Linked DNA regions of Homo sapiens. The protein of the gene in region 6 purifies or fractionates together with the protein of the main gene of each other region. This does not show direct contact. Each region holds a gene or a part of one and is shown on either strand. Other genes may lie near its edges. The genes, in order: CCDC51, NCEH1, PTGES2, SCCPDH, RAB5A, H2AP and SYMPK.

Region 1 (2,723 bases), on a different chromosome or scaffold from region 6:
TGAGCCGAGTAGACTCGTGGAGGAAGAGTCATCCAGCTGGACAAGGTGGCAGGGCACAGACCAGCACGGTGGCTGGAGCAGAGTATGGCAGTAGAAGGAAGAGGATGAGGGCTGAGAGGTCTCAGGATTTCTTGGCCACCGCCAGGTGAAATGGGAGCTGTTGGGGGATTTTGATCAGAGGGATGTAATCTGATTTTTGTGTTACAGGGCCTTGGGCTGCCATGTGCAGAACATGGGGGTGGGGGACGGCAGGGGAGAAAGCCGAGATTGCATAGGAGACAGTAGCTGTCATCTCTGCCAGGAATGGGTGACTTTGCTGGGGTCTAAAAATGGGCAGCTAGTAGAGGAGGTGCTGGGAAAGGAGGCTGAGAAGGTTGGAGGAAGCCAAGAGGGGCAGTGATGTTGGGAAGAGAGGGTGTTGAAAGTGGTGCCAGCCATGGCGGACACTGCATGCTTTGTCTGATGAAGGATACACCTGCAGGGGTGTTATAGGATCTCAGCCTGTGTGTCATGGGTGCTGGCCTTGAGGCCTGGGAGTCTGACTGGGCTGCTGGGGCCTGGATGGTATGCACCCTCATGGGCATGGAACCCAGCCTTATGAAGGGGGCCCAGGGGTTTGGGTGTGGCACCAGCTTGGGATCACTGTCACAGTGAAGTTCCCTTCTGCGGCTCTCAGCTCAGGCCCACTTTGCCCAGAAGACATGTTTCTACCCAACCAGCTGTGTTTTCAAAGCCGCTGAGCTTCTCCAAAGACAGTTCTTAGCACAGCATGATGGAGAGGAGGCTAGGGTGCTGTGGGGAGCCTCTGTCTCATATCACCTTCCATCAGGAAGCCCCTTTCTATTCTGTATCTGGAGCTCCTTCAGTTCCTTCCTGTCTGCAGCTCCCTCTGCTTTTCTCTCTGTGGCGTGGTCTGTTGGCCACCAGGTGTCGCTCTCACAGCCAGGATCAGTGCTTAGGGACTTTGAGGTGTGGTTTGGCCAGAGGAGGGTGCTGTTGGCTCAGCTTTTTCTGGGAAAATGGGTCACCTGGCCACCTCTTTGGGGTCCTCAGAGTCACTGGCACTCTTGGGCTCAGGTGAGGCCTGATTCTGGATAACAGGAGACTCCCTGCTGTCCAGGTAATGAGAAGCAGGCCCAAACATCAAAGCAAGATGGAAAAGGGAAAGATGAGAGAAACCTAACCTGTTGAGCAATGGCAGGTTGGAGAGGAAAGAGAAAGCTTATGGAAGTCGTGAAGTGTGAGACTGAGAGTTGGTAGCCTGGAAAGTCTGGGGGCGGAGTTGTATGGCGTGAACCTAAGAAAAGTCCTCTGTGGCAAAAACAGTTTTGTTTTGTTTTTTTTTGCCCCTGGAATTATCTTAGAGGAGAGCTGAGAGTTTTCTGTCTTGGGTCACAAATGGCCTGTGTCCTTAGGTCCTTGCACAGAATTGAAACTCTGCTTCCCTTGTGCTGAGGCAGTCCTTGGAGAGTCTGGGGAGTTGGTTTTGAGGCTGTTTTACAGAAATGATCCTGGATCTTAGTCTTCCTGAATTCCCCTGAGTTCCACAACATTGCAGGGAGTATTTATGCGTCTTTGTGGGGCTTTGTCAGCATGTGTACAAGTCTGGTTTAAAAACTGTCTTTGACATCAGAAACCTGGGCACCAGGATTCTCATTCAAGTCACAGCAGAGAGACCTGGAGGATGTAGGGAAGTGGGTAGCAGGGAAGGGTCCGCTTTGTGTGGCATGGTGGCGGGCACTGGAAGGTATGGCATCCTAGAGGCTCGTCCCCAACTGTGTTCCATTGTCCAAGAGCACCCAGAGGAGAGCCTGACCATCCTCTTGCCACAGGGGCCACAGTCTCTGGGCCCAACAGGGTGGTGCTCAGTTTAGATGATTTGAGTGGGGATTAGTCTGTTCAGAACTGTCCCTAGGCCTCAAAACTGACTTATGTCCAGCCTTTCTCAGCTGTGAGCTGACCTGTCTGGCGTCCCCCTCACAGATCTCAGGATGATGGGGCGCAGCCCTGGGTTTGCCATGCAGCACATCGTGGGTGTGCCCCACGTACTGGTTCGGAGGGGCCTCCTTGGAAGGGACCTCTTCATGACCAGGACTCTCTGCAGCCCAGGCCCAAGCCAGCCCGGAGAGAAAAGACCTGAGGAGGTGGCCCTGGGGCTGCACCACCGCCTCCCAGCACTGGGAAGAGCCCTGGGGCACAGCATTCAGCAACGAGCGACCTCCACAGCCAAGACTTGGTGGGACAGATATGAAGAGTTTGTTGGACTCAACGAGGTTCGAGAGGCCCAGGGAAAGGTGACAGAGGTGAGGAGGGGAGCTGGGGTGGCTGGCCCCGCCCTCTGACTTGGGAAATGTGCCAAACCAGTCACGTGGTGCTGGGTAGCCACATCCAGACTTGTGTTTAGCCTCATTTCTCACGTGGAAACCTGGGCTTGATGCTTCTGGGGTGAAGGTCTCCATGTAACTGTGCCACCTACTTTCCCCGAAAACAGTTACTGTGTACCAGTAAGTCCCTGGCCACTAACATCCACTCTGTGAGGCCAGCAAATACTTCCTTTGTGGACCATTTGGGGATTGATGGTGAGAGTTACGTGGGGCTTGCTGCGGTACTGTTACTGTGTGTAATTACAACATCTTTTGTGAAGATAGAGGGCACTAGGAAATGTCACAGTGTGAGGTGGAAAGAGCTGGTGGTGGTTGTCAAGTCCTTTGTGGTGGCAGAAA
Region 2 (3,500 bases), on a different chromosome or scaffold from region 6:
GTCTGGCAAAACAGAAATGTGTAAGGCAGAAACCTAAACTTGAGAAGCTTACAGTCAAGTGAAGGATGATAAACCAACTGCCAGTGATAGGGTAGGTGCTTGAATGATGGAAGGAAAATGTGGCTAAAGGTAATAATGGTGTCCCAAGAGAGCTCGGAGCATGAGCCTGGCTTGTCTTGATTATTTTCTAACTTACTACTGCTTACACTATGAATCTTTTCAGTGACACAATGTAAAAGAAGTGCTGAAATTGGTATTTATGCTGAGTGTTCCCCCTGTTTCTTATGGGTGACAGTGCTTTTGGACTAGTTGATCAAGGATTTTTATCTTGCCAAATGTCCCCAAACTTGTTGAGATTTAATGTCACCTCACCTGAATTCTCTGTGCATGATGTGCTTTTGGGCTGTGTGGGTGTGGTTTAAATGACAGCTCAGCTGGAAACTGTGCAGAACTTCAACGTGCTAATAATCTCTTTCATAACAGTTTTGAACTGGAATATTTACTATTGTCAGGTGAATTTAACTTTAAAACATCAGTAAATAATGATTGTCCAGAAATTATGATGATGCGTATTTCTTCATGCACATTAGTAACTTCACTAACCACAATTTTTAGCTGATTTGCTAGGATTTTTCTTTAAACATATGGAGGCAAAAGGTTTTAAGAATAGTGTCAGGGGCATTATTTAATCAGTGTTAGTTCTGACAGGTGAACAACCTGAGTTGGTCTCTGCAGATAGTACCTATGAAACATTAAGGTCAGATTGATTCAGCTACCTGGTGTGTAAGATAATGCCCAATTTATAGTTTCCTTTTTATTTTTTCTGGTACTTCTACAAATATAACCCTGAGCATAGAAATACCCTCATTATTTTAATGGGACATCCTATTTCTACCATGCAATTTGAGCTTGATCTGAGACATTTCTGTGAAGTGTGAAAGTACAGTTAATCATTCTTAAATGTTCTTTTTATGCACAATTGCTTCTTTTAAAATAGCATTTTAAAATAGCATATATTTACTTTTTTTTTTTTTTTTTTTGAGACAGAGTCTTGCTCTGTCACTCAGGCGGGAATGCAATGGTGCGATCTCGGCTCACTGCAACCTCCGCCTCCCAGGTTCAAGCAGTTCTCCCGCCTCAGCCTCCCGAGTAGCTGGGATTACAGGCCCCCGCCATGATGCCCGGCTAATTTTTTTTTGTATTTTTGTAGGGATGGGGTTTCACCATGTTGGCCAGGCTGGTCTCAAACTCCTGACCTCAGGTTATCCACCCGCCTTGGCCTTCTAAAGTGCTGGGATTACAGGGGTGAGCCACTGCACCCAGCCATATTTACTTTTCTAAAGAAAATATGTAACACTGCAAATGTGTGTCATCCTTCTGCAGGGGCATGCTAGTCCTCTCTGAACTGTTATGGTTTTAGTGTATGTGCTGCTGAAGTGAGCACCATATATTTACTTTTGCTGCCAAATGAAATTATGTGGGAACTGTCTACCACTTCTCTTTCATTTTATGTTTATATAGAATGAAGAAATGTAATTGAATTTATTTTCGTTTTTTACTTTTTATTTTTTTCTTACAGACAAGGTCTTGCTCTGTCACCCAGGCAGGGATGCAGTGGTGTGATCACAGCTCACTGCAACCTTGAACTTCTGGGCTCAAGGGATCCTCCTGCCTCAGCCTTTTGAGTAGCTGGGACTACAGGCGCGTGCCACCATGCCTGGCTATATTTTTCTTTTTTTATTTTTTAGGAGAGACAAAGTCTTGCTATGTTGCCCAGGCTGGTCTCAAACTCCTGGGCTCAAGTGATCCTCTTGCTTTGGCTTCCCAAAGTGCTGGGATCACAGGCATAAGCCACCGTGCCTACCTGTAATTGAATTTTCAAGTGAAAAACCTGACTATATCGCCTGCCTAATCTAAGGTGTGTCATATTGTGAAATTTTAACAAGCTCTCTTTCAGTGTTTAATAAAATTAAAACCCTGGACGTCATCACATATTAAATATTAAGGAGCTGGTCTGGCAAAACAGAAATGTGTAAGGCAGATACCTAATCTTGAGAAGCTTACAGTCAAGTGAGGGATGATAAACCAACTGCCAGCGATAAGGTGGGCACTTGAATGATGGAAGGAGAATTATGATAGAGGCATCTGTGGATTGCTGCAAGAGCCTTGGAAAGAACATCTAAAGTGGACCTGGGCACTGGGGAAACGTATCTAATCTGAGATGTCAAGGTTGAGTGCCTATAGTAAAAATATCTATTGAGCATATAGTGAGCATTTACTCTGTGGCAGATACTGTGCTATGTGCTTTGTGTTCAATTAGTTTAGCCCATGGTAATACAATCAGGCAGGTGTTCTTTATGTGACAAAGGAGGAGACCGAAATGCAAAGAAAAGTGACTTGCTTAAGATGACACCGTTTATACGAGGTGGAGCCTGAATTCGATTCCAGCCTGTGTTACTCCTGAACTCAAGAGTTTAGATTTGTGCTAGATTTCCTTATAATAGAAACCAGAGAAGAGAAGGGTGAAAGGGGCATTCCAGCCAGAAGCAGCAGTATGTGAAAGTTCTGTGGGAGAGGATGGTGTAGCTGAGGAACTACAAGTGGTTTAGACTGGCTGGAGCTTAAAGTTCAAAGGTCAGAGAGGGAGGCAGAAGGGAAGCACCAGTCAGGTGAGGAAGAGCTCTGTGGAGGAGAAAGGAGCAACTGACAGTCTTCTAGCAGAGAAGTCACATGCTCAAAACTGTGTTTTAGAATAGTCCTTCTCAGTGGCAGTGTAGACACTGGAATGTAAGAAAGCAAAAGTAGGCCAGGCGTGGTCGCTTACAACTGTAATCCCAGCACTTTGGGAGGCTGAGGCAGGCGGATCACAAGGTCACGAGTTTGAGACCAGCCTGGCCGGTATGGTGAAACCCAGTCTCTACTAAAAATACAAAAAAAAAAAAAAAAAAAAACTAGCTGGGCATGGTGGCACGCGTCTGTAGTCCCAGCTACTCGGGAGGCTGAGGCAGGAGAATCCCTTGAATCTGGGAGGTGGAGGTTGCAGTCAGCCAAGATTGCACCACTGCACTCCAGCCTGGGCAATAGAGGGAGACTCCGTCTTTAAAAAAAAAAAAAAAAAGGCAAAAGACCATCTAGGAAGCACTAATCCAGGTGAGAGCATGAACTAACAAAGTGGGACTGATTTGGAGGAAAGCTGATCAGAGTTGCTGTTGGAGGGGAGAGTATGGAGCATCGGAGAGGAAGGAGTCAAAGATGACTCCTGGGACAGATTCTGGAATAGCTGGGTGAATGGGGACCATGACCCTGATTTGGGAGCAAGAGCAGATCTGAGGGTGAAGATATAGAGTTTGGGACCCTGTTTTGAAGTGTCAGTGGACTAGTCCAAGGATGGCTGATCATAAACAGCTGCATATACAGATCCAGAGCTCAGGAGACAGAGCTGGGCTGGTGATATGGATTTGGGAGTAGTCAGCAAATGGATAGTGGCAGAAGTAGTTGAA
Region 3 (2,269 bases), on a different chromosome or scaffold from region 6:
CGTGCGCGAGGACCTCTATGAGGCTGCTGACAAGTGGGTGGCTGCTGTGGGCAAGGACCGGCCCTTCATGGGGGGCCAGAAGCCGAATCTCGCTGATTTGGTGAGTGTGGTGGTGGCAGGTGGTGCCTGGACCGAGGGTTCTGTCCTCAGAGTGGGGGAGGTTTGCAAGGGAAAGCCTGGACGGTGCTTGCATCTTGCCAGAGGAACCTGCCTCTCTCTGCCATCACGGACAGAAACTCGCCTCGAAGTGGCTCCAGGAGAGAAACAGATGACCAGGAACCGCCTTGGTTCACATAACTGACAAGTTCAGGGAACGGGTTGGCTTCGGGCCCTGCTGGATCCAGAGGCCCGGGTGGTGTTACCAGAGCCCAAGCTCTACCTGTCGCCATCAACACTGCCCTCCCTGGAGTTGGCTTCAGCCTCAGGCGGGCTGGGTCCGGTGCTCCAGGCTTCTCCCAGAAAACCCCTGGGAGGGCGTCTCACTGGCCTGGCTTCACTGCCCTTTTTCCTTTTGTTTTTTTTTGTTGTTGTTGTTTTTGTTTTTTTTTTGAGACCAAGTCTCACGCTGTCACCCAGGCGGGAGTGCAGCGGTGCAGTCTTGGCTCGCTGCAACCTCCGCCTCCCAGGTTCAAGCAATTCTTCTGCCTCAGCCTCCTGAGTAGCTGGGATTACAGGCCTGTGCCACCATGCCCGGCTAATTTTTGAATTTTTAGTAGAGACAGAGTTTCAGTATGTTGGTCAGGCTGGTCTCGAACTCCTGACCGCAGGTGATCCATCCACTTTGGCCTCCCAAAGTGCTGGGACTACAGGCGTGAGCCAGCGTGCCTGGCCCACTGCTCATTTTTAAAACTGTCCTGCCCCTGGGTGACCTGGGTCTTGAAACTGGGTGGTGGGGTCTCTTCTCCCCCATCTCAGGACCTGAGATGAGGGGAGGGCATTTATCCCAAGGAAACTTGCTGGGGGGCAGGGTCTGTGGCCCAGAAAAGGGGGTACAGATGTGAAGCAGGCGAGACCTGCAGCCACCCCACATGCTTTGTTCAAACCCTCACCTGTGCTGTTGGCCCTTGAGTGGGTCACGAGCTCCAAGGGGGGAGGGGACGGGACCTGGCCACACAGCTGGCAGGGAACGAAGGAGGTCTGGATGCCTGTCAAACCAGCTATGGTGACACGTTTCTGTTCGTGCCCCAGGCGGTGTATGGCGTGCTGCGTGTGATGGAGGGGCTGGATGCGTTCGATGACCTGATGCAGCACACGCACATCCAGCCCTGGTACCTGCGGGTGGAGAGGGCCATCACCGAGGCCTCCCCAGCGCACTGAATGTCCCCGCGCAGAGCAGAGGGAAGGCAGCGGAAGACGCCAGCTGCCAGGGCCTGGGGCCACTGGGCCAGCGCCTGGCGATACTGGTTGGGGGCAGGATCATTCTGCCCCTTGTCCACGCACCCCCACCAGCCCTCTCGCTTCTAACACAGGGCACCTGCTGGGGCTCAGGGATGTTAGGGACGAGTTCCAGCCCTGCCACTGCCCTGGGGCGACCCCTCCCTGTCCCTGCCTCCCTGCTCTGCCGCCCCTCTTCCTGGACCCTCAGTGGCTGTCCCATGGCTACATCCTGTGGGTGGGGGCCCTCGACAGGACAGCAGGACGGTTTGTTTTCAGTGGAATCCCATCCCTGGGTTCCCCTGGTTCCCACTCTTCCCAAGCCTCCCGGGACTGGGACATGTTTGCAATAAAGGAAAGGTTTGTGGCGCCTGTCATGGCAGGCATCTCATGGAGCTCCGTGTGGCTGAGTGCTGCGTGGGGCTGGCGGTCAAGGGAGGCATCAGGCTTGGGCTGTGCCAGCCCTTGTGGTAACTAACCGCTGGCCTGGGGCTTCCCAGGTGTCAGGCACGGTACGGCTCCGCAGGCTTTGTGTGGCATCGTCCCCAGGATACCACTCAGGGCACACAGCTGGGCCGTGGAGCCCAGCAGCCAGAGTGCAGGTCGGGGCACCCTACCCACGGTGGGGCTCTGCAGTGGGGTCACTCATCAAGCCTCAGTTTCTTCGTCTGTCCCCGCCTTGTGGGAGAGTTCAGTGATAGGAGCAGGTGCAGTGCACAGAGCCGGGTCACCTGGTCCAGGGCACCAGGCTATTCAGACCCCTGCTCTACAGACAGAACCAAGCCCTCTCAGGTGGCGGCCCCGGGCTTCAGCTCCAGGCTGGGCCAGGCTTTATGGGAGAAGAGGCTCTGCCTTCCAGGGTGAGTGTGGGTTGTGGGTGGGACCCCCTTTCCTG
Region 4 (3,500 bases), on a different chromosome or scaffold from region 6:
TTATTGAATAAATATTTATTGATGCTTACCACATGTGAAATGCACTATTGTAGGCACCTGGGACACAATGGTGAACAAAACAGAAAATCCCTCGTGGACATTACGTTCTTGGGGAAGACAGAAAAATAGGATTGTAATAGGAGGTAATGAAAAGTGCTTTGAAGAAAAGTGAAGCCAAGAAAGGAGAAAAGGTCCTGGCATATTGGTGTTTTTAGATGGATGGTCAGGGAAGGTTTCTGTGAGGAATTGACATTTGAGCCAAGATCTGAATGAAATGAGAGCAAATTGCATGAACCTTTTGAGGAGAGACTTTTCCAGGGACAGCAGGCACAAAGGTCCTGAGATGCCAGTGTGCTTGGCAAGACTGAAGAGTGTGACAGAGGCCAGTGTGGCTGGGCATGGCAGAGAGGTGGAGAGTGGATCAGAGAGCAACCCGGGAGCTGGGTCATGTGGGATCTTACGGGCCATGGCCAGGATGTGGATTTTTTTTCCAGGTGTGACCAAGAGGCGTTGAATGGTTGAAAGGAAGGGCTTCAGCTGATTTAAATTGGAAGTTCTTTGGCTTCTGAGTGGAAAAGTAGATAACAAAGGATGAGCAATGGAATGGTGCAAGCACAAGCCCTGGGGTCGTAGTGGTGCTGAGAAGTAGTTAGGTCCAGAGTATATTTTCAAAGGAGAACGGCTTTTGCTGTTGTACTGTGAAAAAGTCATCAAGTCACAGGCCATCAGACTTTTGGCCTGTGTAACAAGGTGAATGTTGGTGACATTTAGTGATCTGAAGAAGCCATCACAGTTGGCAAGATGTTTAAAAATTAAATATCTAAAATATTAATAATTTTTAATTGAGAGCAAAAGGGTTTTTGAATTGCTATTAAATAGAAGTGTTGTTGATTTAGATTCATCTCATTCTTAACTAGCTTAGATTCCATCCATGAGGTCCACTGCTGCACTCTATAATGGACGCCCTCATCTATCTCCCTTGCCTTTTTCTCCTCAGTACTCTGGAAAAATCCCAGCCCTGGTTATTCTCTGCCTGCTCTTCACCTGAACATGAGTAACACAGTGTGGCTGGAGAAAAATGTATCCCCCTGCTAACTGGTCACACTTCAAATATGTGTTTACAAACGTTGTGTGGTGCTTAGCACCTCCGGCAGCTCTGCTCTATTTCCCTCAGGAATTCTCTCTCCTGCTCTCTGAAGCAGCTCACAACCTTGTTTTCCTTGAACTTTTAGTATCCCGTCTCTCTTTCCTTGTTCTTATCTGATTTTATTTTTCTTTTTTTTTAACTATGAAAATAGAAGCTGGTTAATAACAGAATTTCTTTCTTCATCTTCCTACCACCAGATCTATCTACCTACCTACCTGTCTGCCAATCTGCATCATACCCTGTAGTCTGCCATATCTCTTGTTACAAGGAAAAACTGGTCCTCTTCCTATTGGGCACAGTTTTCAAAGACTTTATTATCGGGGGAACCAGCCCCCAGTATTTCAACATAGGTTCTTTTCTATTTTCCCTAAGTGTCAGCCAGTCTGAGAAATAAAGAGAAAGAGTACAAAGAGAAATTTTACAGCTGGGCCTCTGGGGGTGACATCACTTGTTGACAGGTTCCGTGGTGCCCCTTGAGCTGCAAAACCAGCAAGTTTTTATTAGGGATTTCAAAAGGGGAGGGAGTGTACAAATAGGGAGTGGGTCACAGAGATCACATGCTTCAAAAGGCAATACGGTATCACAATGCAAATGGCAGAGCAAGATCACAAGGCCAGGGCAAAATTAGAATTACTGATGAGGTTCCATGTCCCGCTGGGCACGCACTGTCATTGATAAACATCTTAACAGGAAACAGGGTACGAGAGCAGACAACCAGTTTGACTAGAATTTGCCAGACTGGAATTTCCTAATCCTAGCAAGCCTGAGGGTGCTGCAGGAGACCAGGGTGTATTTCATCCCTTATCTTCAACTGCATAAGACAGACACTCCCAGAGCGGCCATTTTAGAGACCTCCCCCTGGGAATGCATTCCTTTCCCAGGGTTATTCCTTGCTGGGAAAAGAATTCAGTGATATTTCTCCTATTCGCTTTCTGCAAGAAGAGAAATATGACTCTCTTCTGCCCAGTCGCGCAGGCAGTCAGACATTATGGTTATCTCCCTTGTTCCCTGAAAATTGCTGTTATCCTCTTCCTTTTTTAGGATGCCCAGATTTCATATTGTTCAAAGACACATGTTTTACAGTTTGTACGGATAACTCAATCATCACAGGGTCCTGAGGCAACATACATCCTCAGCTTACAAAGATGACAGGATTAAGAGATTAAAGACAGGCATAGGAAATTATAACAGTATTGATTGGGGAAGTGATAAATGTCCATGAAATCTTCACAATTTATGTCCAGAGATTGCAGTAAAGACAGGTGTAAGAAATTATAAAAGTATTAATTTGGGGAACTAATAAATGTCCATGAAATCTTCACAGTTTATGTTCTTCTGCCGTGGCTTCAGCTGGTCCCTCTGTTCGGGGTCCCTGACTTCCTGTAACACTTTATGTTTACAATTACACATTATCTTGTTATCAAATTTCTCCTCTTTACTGGATTATTTCAATCAGCATTTAAATATGTGATATCTCCCATATTTTAAAAAAAGCTGCTTGATTCCACATACCCTTCCAACTACTCTACTTTTTGTGCCCCCTTTTTAGCAGCCTCCTTGGAAGAATTCTCATGACTCACTATCTCTGCTTCTTCACCTCCTACTCTATCTTAAACGCCTCCTATTGGGCTTTTGTTTTCCTCCCTCCTCCAATGAAACTACTCTGCTAAAGTCCCACCCTGTCAAATCCAGTCTTCATCTGAAAGCTTGCAGCATTCGATCCAGCTGACCACTTTCTCCTTTCTTTGCTCAGCTTCTACGTTGTCATCTTCTCGTAGTTTTCCTCCTGTCCACCAGCTTCACCCTGGAAGTCCTCGTCTCCTCCACTGCGTCTTTGTCCTCCCCACTCTAAATGCTTGAGGCCTCAGCGTTTAAGCTTTAGAACCTCAATAACCTCATTCAGGCATTAGGTTGCAGTAAAGTGAAAACGACTGAATGAATGAAGAGTGGTGCTGAGGCCCTCTCTGTGTGATGGAAACTTTCCCACAACCCCATCAGGATACCTGCTGTGTCCTGTCTTCAACACATGACCACTTAACATGGCCCAGGGAATGTCTCGTAGTCAGTCCATATAGTAACCGTTAACGGAACGTCATGTTTTTGTAAACATTAACATGGATAAAAGTTCTGATATTTACTTCCACCCTCAGTGGATCATTCTGCGCTTCCCTTAGGGGAAGACTACTTGGGAGACCACTGGGTTAGAAGATGGAACTTTGAGGGCCAGGCGCGGTGGGTCATGCCTGGAATCCCAAACCTCTGGGAGGCTGAGGTGGGCAGATCACTTGAGGTCGGGAGTTTGAGACCAGCCTGGCCAACATGGTGAAACCCTGTCTCTACTAAAAATACAAAA
Region 5 (3,500 bases), on a different chromosome or scaffold from region 6:
TGAGGCAGGAGAATCACTCGAACCCAGGAAGCGGAGGTTTCAGTGAGCCGAGATCGCGCCATTGCACTCCAGCCTGGGCAACAAGAGCTAAACTCCATCTCAAAAAAAAAAAAAAAAAACACTATAGTAGTATTTTAAAACTTTAGGACTTTGAGAAATCATGAACGTCTTAGGGTGTATTATGTATATCAAGAGTTTATTATAGTGGGCTACACTATTCCAGTAATATTTCTGTTCATTTAGTACTGTAGCACTTTTCATTTTTTAAAGTATATTATAAAACTGATTTTCCCTGGCCTCTAATGTTGGTCTTTTCTCCCCCAAAATTATGCTTTATCATACCACATGAACAGTAGTACGGTGGTGGTGGTGGTGGTGGTGGTTGTTGTTTTGAGACAGAGTTACACTCTTGTTGCCCAGGCTGGAGAGCAATGGCACAATCTCAGCTCACTGCAACCTCTGCCTCCCGAGTTCAAGTGATTCTCCTGCCTCAGCCTTCCGAGTAGCTGGGGTTACAGGCATGCACCACCATGCCTGGCTAATTGTTTTTGTATTTTTAGTAGAGACGAGGTTTCGCCATACCGGTCAGGCTGGTCTCAAACTCCTGACCTCAGGTGATCCACCTGCCTCGGCCTCCCAAAGTGCTGGGATTACAGGTGGAAGCCACCGCACCTGGCCCAGTACAGTGTTATCAGGTGAAAAATATCTTGATGTTGTTTTTGAGGTTGTGTTACAACTTGAGTAGATACCTTGTGAAATATCTATTTTTTCACATTTGGGAGCTGCCTCTCTCTACATTCAAATGTTATCTGAAGTAGCCTCTAAATGGTTCCATGTATCTTTTTGAACTTCCTTCTTTTAGTAGACATTTTTGAACATCTGTATGAACAAGGATTTATATTAAATGTTGGTACAGAGAGGAGCTACTACAAGTTGAGCATCCCTAATCTGAAGTCTGAAATGCTCCCAAATTCTTCGAGCATCAATATGATGTCACAAGTGAACAATTTCCACACTTAACACCTTTGCTTTCTGATGAGTCAGTGTACATAAACTTGGTTTAATGCACAAAATTATTTTAGCTTCAGGCTATGTGTACAAGCTTTATGTGAAACAAACGAATTTCATGTTTTGACTTGGATCCCTTCCCAAAAATATCTCATTATGCAAATATTACAAAATCTTTAAAAATCCAAAACATTCCTGGTTCCAAGCATTTCAGATAAGGGATACTTAACCTGTGGTCATTGCTCAAGTAACTCCCAATCAAGGAGAAGAAAAAGATATAAACCAATGATTATAAAAGGTGTGAAACGTTATTACACAGAGAACTCTGGGAGCACAGATGTAGGAGATATTAACTAGGGTGGAATGAAGGAAGGTTTCTAAGCAGAGTTGAGGAATGAATTGATTATCTTCTTTGTTAATCTGAATGGGATCCATTCCTGTTCAGCATGATTTCCCTTGGTTTTGTTCCTAGATTTAGGAATGATGCCCTGTTTTGCCATAAGGAAGAATCTCGTGTGTTTATTAGGAATGGATATTGACTCAAATGCCTTTTTGTAATTTGTTTAAATAAAATGGATTTTTCTTCATTAGCCTGTTAATGTAATAGTTTTGTATTTCTGAAAGAATGTACTTGGTAATGGGCATTTGTTTGTCTTAATGTATTTGTTGCAATTTCTTTGTATTTGGCATTTTTGTACATGTATGGTGTACATGTATGGTGGCCTCTTGTGTCTTTAACTGGCTTGAGAATTGGATCATATTTTCTTTAAGGCAACATCTCTAATACAGTTGGCCCTCTGAATCTGTGAGTTCCACATTTATAAATGCAACCAACTGCAAGTTGAAAATATTAAGGGGGAAAAAATTAACTTAGCTCCAAAAAGCAAAAATTAAATTTGCCACACACTTAATACTATGTTGAATCTATGTGGATGACGTGAGGTGCAGGCATTGTATTAGATATTATAAGTAATCTAGAGATGCTTTAAAGTATACAGGAGGATGTGCTTAGGTTATATACACATACTTTGCAATTTTATATCGGGGACTTGAGCATCCTCAGATTTTGTTATCCATTGGGGATTCTAGAACCAGTCCTTCATGATATATGGGGAGGTCCTGGAAACAGTCCTCCACAGATACTGAGGGATGACTATAGTTATTTCCCTGAGCCTGAAGTTTACTTATGGACGTATAAGTGAATGTTTTTAGTACTAGTAGACTTTGTGATCATAGTATGTCTGAAAAATGAAACAGTCTGTGCACATTTTAATTCCTTTTTTTTTTTTTGCAAGTCTGCATCAAACTATACTTGAAAAAAGGCTTATGTATTGTGACTTATTTTCCTCTTTTCCTTTTTGGTAAGAGTACTGTCTTAGGGACTTAATTTTAGTTTAAAATTTTAGTTTAAAAACATTTTTTGATCCTACAGGAGAACCTCTCGTGACCTTCAAAAAGTGACATAGTGCTGTCTGGATATCCTTTACCATAAATACAATATTTTAGAAAATGGACAATTCTGCTAATTGTTGGTTAAAAAAAAGTTTGAACTGGATTAGAATATATTTACAATGTGATTAATGAGAATTCATAAAACTATTAATTAGAATCTAGGTCCAAATGAAGATGTTTACAGTATTGTTTGCAAAATTCAGAAGATTTTAGTTGTTGATACTAAAGCCAGCAACCAGTTAACCTAAAAGAGCGTGAAAAATAAATGTTGTGTCTAACGTAAAAGAGATATATCTCATTAGACTTTGTTTCTTTAGCACATTTGATACTGGTTAGTACATCTCTATCAACGTCACTAGATAAACGGCTGTAATTTAGAGAAATATATCATAATTCTTTTGCATAATATGACAGTTTTAGAAAATGGTAATTCAAGTGCATACCAATTTGGAAATAGGGCTTGAATATCACACCTTGAGCTAAATGTAGAAGGAAGGGAGGAGCATACCAATTTACAGTGAATGATAGAGCAGCAGCAGAGGGCGGTCTAATGGCTGTGTGTAGGTCTTTTAATTTTAACAATATTGTATCATTTTATAATGCTACTTTTTTTTTTTTTTTGAGACAGAGTCTCTGTTGCCAGGATGGAGTGCAGTGGTGCGATCTCAGCTCACTGCAACCTCTGCCTCATGGGTTCAAACGACTCTCCTGCCTCAGCCTCCCGAGTAACCGGAACCACAGGCAAGCGCCACCATGTCGAGCTAATTTTTGTATTTTTAGTAGAGACAGGGTTTCACCATGTTGGCCAGGATGGTCTTGATCTCCTGACCTCGTGATTTGCCTTCCTCAGCCTCCCAGAGTGCTGGGATTACAGGCATGAGCCACCACGCCTGGCCTATAATGCTACTTTCCTAGTGTTAAAATTAGAATCAGGGAAAGTACAGATCCAAAAAATTCTTATGGCAGGGAATGAAAGGTAGGAGCAAATATTGAATCAACTGAACAAATTAAATCTAGGTTAAGGTAATAATGACTACCAC
Region 6 (2,212 bases):
TTTGAAAATGCTTGGATTTGAGACTCCTTTTTCTTTCCACTTTTTCCCTTGTGGAATGGCAAAGTTATTGGCTGTAAATGAACCAAAGTCAAAGGGAAAACACAGAATTAGTAGAGAAGAAAATTAAATAATAGAAAAGAAACATCTCTTAGTGCTTTGGCTTCACCTAGGAGGGACAAGAAATACACATCTGGGCTTAAACTGAGCACAAGATGCACTTCTCTATCAACTGTTTACCTGGCACTGACAGGTAAACTTATTGAACATCTTATTATTATTATTATTTTTGAGACCGAGTCCCGCTCTGTCTCCCAGGCTGGAGTGTGGTGGCACGATCTCGGCTCACTGCAAACTCCACTTCCCGGGTTCACACCATTCTCTGGCCTCAGCCTCCCAAGTAGCTGGGACTACAGGCGCCCGCCACCACGCCCGGCTAATTATTTTTATTTTTATTTTTATTTTTAGTAGAGACGGGGTTTAACTGTGGTCTCGATCTCCTGACCTTGTGATCCACCCACCTCTGCCTCCCACAGTGCTGGGATTACAGGAGTGAGCCACTGCGCCCGGCTGAGCATCTTATTATTAATTGAAAAATGACTAAAATATATTTTTCAAATGGGGTAAAATCATGACACTCATACAGATATGAAATGAACACATGCTAAAAGAAAAAGATGTTATGACTGCTTCAAAAGGGAAACCAAAGAGTTGATATGGGAATATTCATCAGTAATATTAAATGATTGTGTAAATGGAGGCAAAACTGGTTTCATAAGGTGAAGAACAACCGAACCTCTACTAAAGAATATGCTGTACATGTATCAGCAGCCTACAACTAACAAAAGGCTATAAAAGACTTCACAGATAATGTAAGGCTGGAATCAGATAACCTGCAGTGGTGTCCTAAAGACAGAGCAAAGTTTTCCACTGAAGCACACATTTATTTTTATAATGTCAAAATCAGGTAGAGAGTTATAGTTCCCTCAAAATCAAGGTTCAGTCATTAGCGTGACTAGATCAGTGTCATAGACATTTCTAGGCTGAGGTCTGATAAGGGACCAGTGGACACCAATGAAATCACAAAGTCTAGGGATGTCACAAAGGCAGCTAGCTCCCTGACCAATAAGGGCCTGGAGCAGAGGGATACAATAGGCAGGACTAAGCACTAGTGTCCTCAGAGACCTACTTGAGCTAGAGAATCAAGCAGAGCTGATGAGAGCCAAACCCAGCAAACATCATGTCAGAGAAAAAGAACTGTAAGAACTCGTCTACAAATAACAACCAGACTCAAGACCCTTCTAGAAATGAGCTACAGGTCCCTAGGAGCTTCGTGGACCGCGTTGTGCAAGATGAACGAGACGTCCAAAGCCAGAGTTCCTCCACAATAAATACCCTCCTTACCTTGCTCGATTGCCTTGCTGACTACATCATGGAGCGGGTAGGCTTGGAGGCCAGCAACAATGGCAGTATGCGCAACACTTCACAAGATAGGGAGAGAGAAGTGGACAACAACCGTGAGCCCCACAGCGCTGAGAGTGATGTGACTCGCTTTTTGTTTGATGAGATGCCCAAATCCAGGAAGAATGACTGAAGACTGGGTCCCAGAGCCTTGAAGGGAACCTCACAGGCTTAGCCAGGGCAAAAATGTGTCACAGCTGAGGAATATCTGCTGTTGTCATCAACAAGTGCTATTAAAGGATGTAAATCCATGAGTATGTTTCTGACTCCTCTCAGTTTCTGTCGCTTTGGGTTGTAGGTGTCTGTAAGACATCCAGGGGAAGCTATCCCCAGAGAGCTGAAGGCGGGGAAGGGGTGGCCAGTGTGGTGTTTGAATCAGTGATTTAGAGGGGGCAGTTTCCAATGGTGACAGTGAGGGCGCCGGCCCTGTGGGGAGGAACTGGCTGGGATAAAGACACCGAGACTTCCTCATTGTCTCTGAACAGGAAGGCCTTGTGAGGCCAGGGAGTTGGCTGGGGGCCTCTGAGGCTTGTTGAATTCCCAGCCTGATGCTGGGGCCTGAGGTGGAGCTGCAGACTCTGACTGAGGTGCAGGAGGCTTTATTCAGGATAGCAAAGGTCTGAAGTCAGAGGGCGGTGGCCACAGGGGTGGGTGGAGAGGGGCACACTGGCTGGCATGAAGTTCATGGGACAGGGGCTTTACATGGAGATTGAAGAGTGAAGGAGAAACCATCATGAAAAATGCAAAAAAGAAA
Region 7 (3,500 bases), on a different chromosome or scaffold from region 6:
CTGAGGGCTGGGCACAGTGGCTCATACCTGTAATCCCAGCACTTTGGAAGTCCAAGGCGGGAGGATCGCTTGAGCCCAGGAGTTCAAGACTAAGCTGGGCAACATATGGAGACCTCATCTCTACAAAAAAATACAAAAATTAGCTAGGTATGTTGGCATGCGCCTGTAGTCCCAGCTAGTTGGGAGGCTGAGAGGCTGAGGCAGGAGGATTGCTTGAGCCCAGGAGGTCAAGACTGCAGTGAGCCCTGATTGCACCACCGTACTCCAGCCTGGGTGACAGAGTGACACCCAGTCTAAAAAACAAAAACTGCTCATCATGTTTCCAAAGTGGCTGTAGCATTTGCTGCTCCCCCCAGCAATGAATGGCATTTCTAGTTTGAGCCTCAGTTGTATTGAAAAGTGGGGATAAAAAGAGTACCCACTCCAGGACAGTGTTGTGTGGATTTAAACGAGGTTTTGTGTGTACAGGGCTCAGAACAGAGCCAGGCACACAGGAGGTCCTCGGGTTGGAGCAGGTGGGTCTGACGCACTGGGTGTCTGTTTGCTGCCTCCCCCTCAGGTGTAGAGCAGACCAAACAGTGCAAGGAGGAGCCCAAGGAGGAGAAGGTGGTGAAGACAGAGAGCGTCCTGATCAAGCGGCGCCTGTCAGCCCAGGGCCAAGCCATCTCGGTGGTGGGTTCCCTGAGCTCCATGTCCCCCCTGGAGGAAGAGGCACCGCAGGCCAAGAGGAGGCCAGAGCCCATTATCCCTGTCACTCAGCCCCGGTGAGTCCTCTTCTGGGTGCTAGGGCAGGACAGGAGCCCTACCCTGAAGGTCTGGTTCTCAGCTCGTGTGCGTGTGCGTGTGCGTGTGCGTGTGTGTGTGTAACTGAGATGCAGACAGAAGGAAGTCTGGAATAGGTTCTCTCTGACTCCCGAGTCAGTGCCATAACCACTAAGCCTTTGCTGTTCTCTTTCCTGTAAAAAAAAAAAAAAAAAATCCTTTTTTATGTCTAAAATTAGGATAATGATAGTATCTTTCTCATAAGGATCAAAGAAGAATTAAATTAGTTCGTGGTAATGGTGATGGTTAGGTAACTAGATACTCGAGTGAAAAGTGATTGTGATTGTCAAGCATTTCGCGTGGTTCCTGTTGTGTAGTAAATGCTACTGGCTGTCATCATCATTGTCCCCATTATTACCTCCCTTACACACCACAAAATCCAGCCAGTCCCGGCCACCCAAGTCTTTTTATTATTTATTTATTTATTATTTTTTTTTGAGTCGGAGTCTCACTCTGTCTCCCAGGCTGGAGTGCAGTGGCGCGATCTCAGCTCACTGCAAGCTCCGCCTCCCGAGTTCATGCCATTCTCCTGCCTCAGCCTCCCGATTAGCTGGGACTACAGGCGCCCGCCACCACGCCTGGCTAATTTTTTGTATTTTTAGTAGAGACGGGGTTTCACCGTGTTAACCAGGATGGTCTCGATCTCCTGACCTCGTGATCCGCCTGCCTCAGCCTCCCAAAGTGTTGGGATTACAGGCGTGAGCCACCGTGCCCAGCCCCAAGTCTTACTAACACAGCTGAGCGGGATCTGCTACCCTCCGAGCTCTCTTCTGCTACCCTCACCCCTCCTCCACTCGTGCCCACAAGTCTGTTCCCACCTAAGGGCCTTTGCCTGGAGAGCTGGTCCCCCAGACATTTGTGTATCTTGTCCCTGCCTCCGTTCAGATCCCCACTCACAGAAGCCTTCCGTAAGACGCCCTCTGCAAAACCAAAATAACATCCTCTTCCTTCCTCTTACCCACCGCCACACCGTGCCTCAGAGACACAGAGGAACTGGAGAGGCAGCAGGGGGATGGGGGCCATCTCTGTTGCCTACCTAGTCCTTGAAGTTGGGAGAGTCACCAGACAGGCCTTTGCTGCAGTCTGGGTCACTGCATCTCTGTCACTGCTCTTCCACACAGGCTGGCAGGCGCTGGTGGGCGCAAGAAAATTTTCCGTCTCAGCGACGTGCTGAAGCCCCTTACCGATGCCCAGGTGGAAGCCATGAAGCTGGGCGCTGTGAAGCGGATCCTGCGGGCTGAGAAGGCTGTGGCCTGCAGCGGGGCAGCCCAGGTGTGCGCCTGCCACCCCCCACCCCATCCTTCCAGTCCCTCTACCCAAACGTCTACCTCACATCCAGCGAAGAGTCTGGCCCTGGCGTCAAACCTCCCTGGCTGCGGACCCCAGCTCTGCTGCCCACAGCCGCTTCTCCAGATCACTCCCATCCTCCATAAAACAGAGACAGTAGCAGCAGCTCCTCCTGGGTGACGAGGAGGAAATGTGCAATGAGCACAGGCACTCAGGTGCACAGGGCAGGTGCTGGGAGGCCTCTGCAAGTGAGGGCTGCTCTTGTGGTCTTGGTTCTTCACGGTTGTTAACGTTCTTACTGTTACTATTTAGCTTTAGAAATATACCTGGTTCTCTGTCCTGATTCTGCCACTTGCTGGCACTGTTACCTTCAAAGAATGGGGAAAAGTGACTTTTTCCCCATTCTGTGAAGTTAATTGTTGATTAGCCAGTAGTATAGGAACATACTCCCTGAGCTGAAAAATATTTCCGGGGAATCCAGATCCAGTACTCTTCCGTGGCCATCACCTGCACCCCATCCCTCTCTTCAAAGGTGACAAAGGCACAAATGAGGGGAATCTTTGAGGATCTTTTTCTGTGCACTTAAGTACATGGGTGCTGCTCCTAGAAACTCATTTTTATTCTGTGATGATCGATCCCCACCCTGGTACCCCCACCCCCCAACACACAAACGGGACCTTCCTAGGCATAAGGGTCCTCGGCTGGCCTTCCTCGCTTCACTCCTTGTCTGCTCTGAGAGTTCCTGCGTCTGGGTGGGAGAAGTCGCAGGGCACGATTGCGGAGTCCCTGGATTGCCCACCCTACACTGACATGCTGGCTCACCCTCCCACCAGGTCCGCATAAAGATCCTGGCCAGCCTGGTGACACAGTTCAACTCGGGCCTGAAGGCGGAGGTCCTGTCCTTCATCCTGGAGGATGTGCGGGCCCGCCTGGACCTGGCCTTCGCCTGGCTCTACCAGGAGTACAACGCCTACCTGGCCGCAGGTGCCTCGGGCTCCCTGGACAAGTATGAGGACTGCCTCATCCGCCTGTTGTCTGGCCTGCAGGAGAAACCAGACCAGAAGGATGGGTGAGGGGGCTGACCCTGCACCCTCCTGTCCCCGAGAGGCTTCCTCTCCTGGTGCTGCCCTCCCTTTCTGATTGCGACCACCTCCCTCTTCGTCACCCCCCGAGTCAGTCCTCCTCGCACCCATCCCAAGTCTCCTCTCCTCCTCCCCCTCTGGAGGCACGTTCAAGGTTGTAGTTTTGCATGTGGGCTCCAGGTCGCACTCCCTGAGCTGTTCCTCAGCTCTGCCACTTGCTCTGAGCTTGCTCTGCGTGGCTTTGTCACTCCCTCTCTCTGCCATTTTCCCATCTGTAAATAACAGTGCTCACCCATGGGCCTGGAGATA

Evidence for each region.
Region 1: the proteins of H2AP (region 6) and CCDC51 purify together in Homo sapiens (affinity purification with mass spectrometry; one large-scale study listed by BioGRID and IntAct). This does not show direct contact.
Region 2: the proteins of H2AP (region 6) and NCEH1 purify together in Homo sapiens (affinity purification with mass spectrometry; one large-scale study listed by BioGRID and IntAct). This does not show direct contact.
Region 3: the proteins of H2AP (region 6) and PTGES2 purify together in Homo sapiens (affinity purification with mass spectrometry; one large-scale study listed by BioGRID and IntAct). This does not show direct contact.
Region 4: the proteins of H2AP (region 6) and SCCPDH purify together in Homo sapiens (affinity purification with mass spectrometry; one large-scale study listed by BioGRID and IntAct). This does not show direct contact.
Region 5: the proteins of H2AP (region 6) and RAB5A purify together in Homo sapiens (affinity purification with mass spectrometry; one large-scale study listed by BioGRID and IntAct). This does not show direct contact.
Region 7: the proteins of H2AP (region 6) and SYMPK purify together in Homo sapiens (affinity purification with mass spectrometry; one large-scale study listed by BioGRID and IntAct). This does not show direct contact.

What each region holds. Positions count from the first base shown.
Region 1 is NC_000003.12:48,434,397-48,437,119, reverse strand, and holds part of CCDC51 (mitochondrial potassium channel), read left to right. Parts: intron 1-1,983; 5' UTR 1,984-1,991; coding exon 1,992-2,303; intron 2,304-2,723.
Region 2 is NC_000003.12:172,701,068-172,704,567, reverse strand, and holds part of NCEH1 (neutral cholesterol ester hydrolase 1), read left to right. Parts: intron 1-3,500.
Region 3 is NC_000009.12:128,120,193-128,122,461, reverse strand, and holds the end of PTGES2 (prostaglandin E synthase 2), read left to right. Parts: coding exon 1-100; intron 101-1,188; coding exon 1,189-1,317; 3' UTR 1,318-1,769; downstream 1,770-2,269. UniProt on the Homo sapiens protein: Isomerase that catalyzes the conversion of PGH2 into the more stable prostaglandin E2 (PGE2) (in vitro). The biological function and the GSH-dependent property of PTGES2 is still under debate.
Region 4 is NC_000001.11:246,727,409-246,730,908, forward strand, and holds part of SCCPDH (saccharopine dehydrogenase-like oxidoreductase), read left to right. Parts: intron 1-3,500.
Region 5 is NC_000003.12:19,971,097-19,974,596, forward strand, and holds part of RAB5A (ras-related protein Rab-5A), read left to right. Parts: intron 1-3,500. UniProt on the Homo sapiens protein: The small GTPases Rab are key regulators of intracellular membrane trafficking, from the formation of transport vesicles to their fusion with membranes.
Region 6 is NC_000023.11:37,989,603-37,991,814, forward strand, and holds H2AP (huntingtin-interacting protein M), read left to right. Parts: upstream 1-1,176; 5' UTR 1,177-1,237; coding exon 1,238-1,591; 3' UTR 1,592-1,712; downstream 1,713-2,212.
Region 7 is NC_000019.10:45,828,648-45,832,147, reverse strand, and holds part of SYMPK (symplekin), read left to right. Parts: intron 1-559; coding exon 560-764; intron 765-1,943; coding exon 1,944-2,094; intron 2,095-2,942; coding exon 2,943-3,178; intron 3,179-3,500. UniProt on the Homo sapiens protein: Scaffold protein that functions as a component of a multimolecular complex involved in histone mRNA 3'-end processing. Specific component of the tight junction (TJ) plaque, but might not be an exclusively junctional component. May have a house-keeping rule.